Homo sapiens: one gene and its partner. The protein of the gene in region 1 purifies or fractionates together with the protein of each later gene. This does not show direct contact. Each region holds a gene or a part of one and is shown in the gene's direction. Other genes may lie near its edges.

The links.
Region 2: the proteins of SPAG16 (region 1) and ADCY6 purify together in Homo sapiens (affinity purification with mass spectrometry; one large-scale study listed by BioGRID and IntAct). This does not show direct contact.

Annotation. Positions count from the first base shown.
Region 1 is NC_000002.12:213,861,460-213,865,111, forward strand, and holds part of SPAG16 (sperm-associated antigen 16 protein), read left to right. Parts: intron 1-1,025; coding exon 1,026-1,169; intron 1,170-3,652. UniProt on the Homo sapiens protein: Necessary for sperm flagellar function. Plays a role in motile ciliogenesis. May help to recruit STK36 to the cilium or apical surface of the cell to initiate subsequent steps of construction of the central pair apparatus of motile cilia.
Region 2 is NC_000012.12:48,765,660-48,769,009, reverse strand, and holds the end of ADCY6 (adenylate cyclase type 6), read left to right. Parts: coding exon 1-73; intron 74-293; coding exon 294-419; 3' UTR 420-2,816; downstream 2,817-3,350. UniProt on the Homo sapiens protein: Catalyzes the formation of the signaling molecule cAMP downstream of G protein-coupled receptors. Functions in signaling cascades downstream of beta-adrenergic receptors in the heart and in vascular smooth muscle cells.

The DNA of each region.
Region 1 (3,652 bases):
AAATGAACATGTGATCGCTGTTTTTTAAATCATCATATGTCTTACCGCACCACATTGGCAAGTAAATGTATTATTGTCTTTGAATTTAGATGGCCAAATTGAAATTGAACAATTTGTTACTAATATTTAGGTTGGAATTTTAATAGGTGCTTAACATTGGACACATCTGTTCCCATTACATTGTAAGGCATAGATGAAACTTTATACAAATAAGATTAAAGCATTGCCATAGCTAAAATATCAGGCATTAACCTTGTAGACTTTTGATTTTAAAATAGTTGAGCTCCAGTATTAAAATAGCCACAGTGATCAGAGTCCAGTTCAAATAATAGTGCTTAATGTGTTAATCATTAATCTTACATACTTCTTTCTCATTTCCCTCTATGCCTTTATAGAGTGGGAATTGCCTTATATCTTGAATTCATTACTGTAATTTGTGTACTGTGCATTGACTGAAGCCAATTTAAGTGGTAATGTAGGATAGAATTTTAGTTCCTTCACTTTGTGTAGATAGTGGGCCATGGAGTTAATGTTTCATTTATAGTATTTATTACAGAACTATGATAATGTGGTTATGATTCATGATCTTTTCCTGGATAATGGCTGATTTAAGACATATTATAGTTTGAAAACAATGTTGATGTTCTATAGTAACCATGACCACTGGTCCAAATATCCCAACATAAAAATACCATTGGCATAATTTTTCTTCCCTTAAAGAAAAACCATAATTACTCTTTTCAAACCAGAATTAGATATGCACAATCACCTAAACCAACTACTTTGTCTTGCAAATGAGGAATCCGAGATCCAGTGAAGCTGACTAGATTGATGGAGATCAGAAAGCTACTAGTGTTAGAGCTATAGCAGGGATGCAGAACCTGCTTCCTCTTATTTTGGGGCCAGTACTCTCAAAACTATCCTGCCTTGCTAAAATCGGATAATCACTGCCATTTCATTTATTCATATTCTGAAAACATTTGCTATTATCTCCCCATAACTCTTTTTTCTTTCTCCTCGCGCAGTGTCTCCATGCAACCCCACAAAGACATCCTAGTCTCCTGTGGCGAGGACCGACTCTGGAAGGTGTTGGGCCTTCCAAAATGCAATGTGCTTCTCACGGGATTTGGCCACACTGACTGGCTTTCAGACTGCTGCTTCCATCCCAGGTCAGTGCACAGGACCCCTAGAAATAGCCTAATCTCTCTAGGAATGTGCTCCTTTACTCTGTCTGCTCACTCTGCTGTCTTTGATGATGTTTTTCTTTCTGCAACAACACACCCTGCACTGAATTTCAAAGTGTATAGACAAATTCCCCTTTGGTTTTCAGTATATTGACTTCTGATTGTTTTTGATATTTGGTACATGTAAAACTTAGTCCACATGCTTATGCATTTAACCAAAGTAATAAGCTTCTCAGGACAAGCATTATTAAAATTCCTTGTGCTCACGAGCCCTGACAAGGCACAGAGATTTCTAGTCAATAATGCATGCCAGAATTTACCTTTGTTAATCTTTGGAGTTTTCCTTTTAGAATTAATTTATGTACCAAAAAGGATCAGATAGCTGCGATCAATTTCTCTAAAAATTCAGTGACACACAAGATATTAAAAAGAACAAAGCAATACTGAGAACACTGGGCCCTGTAATTTCTGAAATTCACTGAACCTAAATTCATTTGTACCTAAAAGACCAAGGGCACAGAAGGGAGATCATTCTTAAAGACACAGATGGAAAACTGCCCATAGTTCCTTGTGGCCCATTGCTACTGCCAATCCTGTTTTCTGCTCATCATACTTCTTGGATCTGCTTCGTTCTAAAACTCTCTGGCCTGATTACTTTTTTAACCCATAGTTCTTGGTGCTTTTCTAAACCATTCTTTTGGAAATTTTGTTCTTGGGAAGATTTCTTATGATTTATTTTCATGTTTTCACTAAACTCCTTTTTTAAATCAGTTTTTATTTTATCTTTGCTATGAATGTCTATGAAATTAGATAAAAAAATTTTATTTAAATTTAGAAATTTGTAAGTTAATGACAAGGGTAAACTAAGTTTGTTTTTAACTTTTGAAAATCTTTCCAAAATATAATTTATCTTTAGTACTAGATGTTTGACCCTACTTTATGAACATGCAGTGTATTCCGTATCCAGTATATAAATTAAACAGAGCCTTGCCACCCTCTCACCTCTTAGGAACATAAAACCCATGTTGCAAGCAGAGACAATACAATTAGAAGAATAGCCAATCGCTTATGTAGCTACTGGGCATACTAATCAGATTTTGATAATGCCCTGTTACCATGACAGCCAGTGACTCAGAGATTTTCTCATTAGTGTTTGACCAGCAATGGTCCTTTTAATAGATCTTCCTGTTTTCCCATTCAATTACTGAAATTAATATGAGGTGAGATACATCATTATTCACTCATAATATGAATTTACATTTAGCACTTTCTTACGGCAGAATTGTAGTAAAATACTGCTATACTGTTTGCTTTTTTTCAGTGCATGAGACAAATATAAGGGGAGAAAATAAATATAACCATAAGTGTTTTTAAATGAGAGATATTGAATAGCAAATGTTCTTTTTGTAGAATTAATAAAAAAGAAAAAATGATCATTAGAAACAACAACAAAAAAAGCTCTATTTTGGTTTATTTGTGGTGAAACACATTCTGAAAGAGTTTATATCTCAGACCACAAACATTTTATAATCCTTGTATGCAAACCAACACTAAATAGCAAATGAATATGAAAAAATATATATGTACCTACAGATAGTGTTGATAGATTAAAAGTTGTTGGAATTTATGTTTCCTGGAATTTAAATTTGTAATATTTGACTTTTGCTTTGGCTTATGTGATTTGGTAAGAAAAGATAGTTAATTAATGAAGATAATATATTTCCTATCTCATGGTATACTTCATCTATAATTTAAAATCAAACCTAAAATAAGTTTGATTTAAATATGATACTCTAATCTGTAGTTGATTTTTTAATGAATACAGTTATAGTCTTCAGAGTCCAGCTCTGGGCTCTGGTTGATTCTGCTTTCTTGGGAGAGGCCTAGGGTGGACACAGTATATACTAACATTTACTGTCCTCCTATGCTCTTCACACAAGACACATATACTTTTTCTTATTTTTTTCTTTCCTTTGCTTTTAACATTTCCTTTATTTTTAATTTCAGTTGCTTCTAGTTGAATATTTTCTCTAACTGTTAGCTGGATGTATTCCTGACTACAATGGTAGCTGACACTGTCAGGCACTCTATCTTCTGCAATGATGACATATCCAAATTTTGTTTGGGGGTCAATTATTCTTGACATGATTGTGGTTTACCTTGACTGACCCCAATCAATCTTCTTTGTCCTATTTCTCGTATCATAGCAGACATCTCAAGTGCCTAAATAATAAATACAATAGACATAGTAATACTCATATCAGACAAAAGAAGATTAATAGGTAAAAAAATAAACTGAGGGGATAACTAACACTTGAGAATCCAGCTAATATGATGTCGAAATATATAAAACAAAAAATCTCGTAAAACAAGATGATAGTAAAAAAATGTAATAATCAGAATCAAAGACTTCAAGGTATCTCTCTCAACTTTTAATCTGTCAAGTAAACAAAATTTGTAGTGGAATT
Region 2 (3,350 bases), on another chromosome or scaffold:
GTATGACATCTGGGGGAACACAGTGAATGTCTCTAGTCGTATGGACAGCACGGGGGTCCCCGACCGAATCCAGGTGAGGGGGATATGAGCAGGGGCTGGGAGGAACATGGGCCCGGAGGGCTTCCACAGGTGTCTCTGCAGTCTGCTAGGACAGGGGTAGGGTGGCTAGTGTTCTGTGTATGGTGGGGCAGGGACTGGGGGAAGGGAGCTAGCCTGACTAGAGAACCCCTGGGCCCCTGCAAATGCAGCAGGAAGGATTCCAGGCTAAGCGGGCTCCCCTCCCACTCCCCCAGGTGACCACGGACCTGTACCAGGTTCTAGCTGCCAAGGGCTACCAGCTGGAGTGTCGAGGGGTGGTCAAGGTGAAGGGCAAGGGGGAGATGACCACCTACTTCCTCAATGGGGGCCCCAGCAGTTAACAGGGCCCAGCCACAAATTCAGCTGAAGGGACCAAGGTGGGCATTGAGTGGACTCTGTGCTCACTGGGTGGAGCTGTGGCAGGGGGCACTGAGCCTCCAGACCCTGCTAACCACAAAAGGGAACATCCCAGCAGGCTGTGCTTGGATCATGCTCGTCTGCCCTCAAGCTGGAAAACAAGGGGCTACCTACCGAGAGGATTATGCAAGTGACTTTCTTTCTTACTTGGGGTAGGGCTGTTCCCTCTCCAATCTTCCAGCCTTTGGGAGCAGGGGAGGGGTCAGTAGCAGAAGCAGAGGGAGGCCTCTTGCCTGAGGGATTAAAATGGCAGCTTGCCATGCCTACCCTTCCCTGTCTGTCTGGGCAGCAGGTTCAGGGCTGAGCCCTTCTTTTCCCTCTTTTTTCCTGGGAATATTTTGTACAATATTTTGTACAAAGACAGGCATGAGGAGTGCCTATTCCATGCTTGCCTTTGCAATACCTGCATCCCCAGCACTGGTCCTGGGCACTTCCCCACCCCAGCCAGGTGTCCCTCCTATGCACAGAGCAGAGGAGGGAGAAGCTCTGGGGAGCCAGCTTTGGCCATATTTCAGGAGAATGTTTCCATGTGCCAAATCTTAGTCCCATGATCTGTCCCCAAAGGGGAACAAAGGGACCTCTGACAGCTTAGATTTAGCCCCAGTTCCTGCACGCTCCAGGGAACGGGGTGTCTGGCCTCACTGGTACTGTGAAAAATGCTCAGAGAGCAAGCCTGTGTGTGGGGATGTCAGGTCAGGAGCTGGAAGTTCACCTGCAGGTGCCAAAGAGCAGGCCGGCCAGGGCTGGGGCAGTGCCAGACTCTGATCTGAGGACCCCGTCGGGGTCCAGATCAGGTCACTCTGCCCCAGTGCTCTCTTGCTGTCTGCTGACAAGGGGGCATGGAGCATCTCTTCCTCTTCTGTTGCCAAATAGAAAAGGGTCAGGGCATGGAGAAAGGTGACCCTGATCCCAAACCTGCCCTCCCAAGTCTCTGGTGTTGGGGAGGGCCCGTGTGTTTGTGTAACTGTGTGTGCATGTTGGTCTTTGTGTGCATATCTGTTTTCCAGGTCTATGTGAGTCCTTGTGCTCCTGCTCCTCAGCTCTCCACCCCAGGTTGCCTCTCTCCTGTGGGCCTCTGTCTTCTGGGAATAAAGCAGGGTTTCCTACTTCAGGGGATGTAGAGAGATGCCCAGGTTGCACAGGAGTGGGATGGGGTGTGGTAGCAAAAGGAGGGAGAGGAGTCCTTTTTGTGCCAAATCCCTAAGTGCCGTTCGGGGGCCATGTGTGCAGCATGACTCTCCCTGTCTGTGGCAGGGACCCAAGCGCTTGCTTAAGCCCCAGTGCTCCATGCCAGCACTTGAACTGTCTGGGGTTTGATGGACAGAGGCTGAGGAATTTCCTGGCTTCCCCAGATAGTGTCCTGGGACATGGTATGCTTTGGGGCTGGGGTAGCATGGAATCCCTCTGAGGACCTGGATACTGGTACTACGGGGTGGGGAAGAGGAACCTTAAACTTGGCTTTCCCCAGCCTTCAGCCTGAGTCTAGCATGTTTCTAGCTCCCCAGTCCCTTGTGAAGCCTTGAGGGCTGGCAGAAGGGTTAGGAGGTTGAACTCTAGATTCCCTTCCTGTCTTTGCCTTCCTTTTACCCCTTTCCCTGCAACCTCCTTGACTCTGGCCTGAATTTGTTGGTGCCTCAGTTTCTCTGTCTGTACCTATTTAAGCCAAAGGCACTAGCCTGAATTTTGCTTGAAGATCACTTTGTCTTGGAAATGACTAGAGAGGCAGAGGAGAAGGGTTTCCAGAGTTGCTAGGTTTGGGAGTGGAAGGGGCAGGCAGTGCACTTGCCCCTCCTCATGCCCCTTCTGACACCAGCTCCCTGTGGAGGCCTGGTTTCTGGGTAATGCCTCCCTTGGGCATCTTCATGCATCAACCAAATGGGCCATCAGGTACTTCATTAGTCATGGCAGAAGGAGGGGAAAAGACTTGTTTTCCAGACAGAAAATCTACTCCCCTGTCCCCAGCCATATCCCTGGATAGGAAGGGATAGGAAGAGACTACTTGGTGCCATGGGGTAGGGGTGAGGGTATAAGTAGATCAGAGTGGGAAGACCTCAGCCTTGGGTGGCTTGTCTCTGCTTCTTGCCAGGTGGGAGGGCCTGTCCACACCCTGGATCCCCGTACCACAGTGCCAGCCATGCCCTTCCCCTGGGCTACCATTGTCCCTTTCCTCACCCAGTTGGTAGAGGAGTCAGGAGGTGGGAGGCCGTGGGCTTTGGTTTTATAATGTAACCACTGTGGGGGTGGGGGAGGATGGTGAACCATGTATTTCAGTGAAATATTTAATATATTTAAATATCAATAAAATCAAACTCTTTGTAAAATTCTCTGTTCTCTGTAGCTGTTCTGGGCCCTGGGTGGGTCAGAAGTGACAGAGCCTGGTGTAGGAGGCGACCTCCTGCCCCAGGGCTCCGTGGGCCTCTTGTCTGTGGTCAGAGGACTTCCTGTGGCTTTCTCCCTGCTAAGGAGAAGCTGCAGTATCTTCAGAGTGTGACTACTCAAGGCCTTTCAGCATCATGAGCTCCAGTGTGTGCCTTCCCAGATTTGTGTGTGACCCCTGCCATGCATGAAGCCGGCGGTTCTTTCCAGTGCCTTGGCCCCTCACAGACCTCTCACTCCAAGGTCTGGCTTATTCAGGAATCTCCCACACAGCAGCTCTCACAACAATCTGGACACTGGAATCACTCCCATCCTGACCCCACAGCTCCCCCCGTGCACACAAGCAACTTTTAGTCCAGTCTGTTTACTGTGCTTTCTCCATCTCCTCCTCCCATTAGTCAGCCATCGGAACTGGGAAACCTCCTTCTTTCCCCCTCTGCACTCTTGCCACAATTCATCTTGTCTTTCTGCAGCCATAT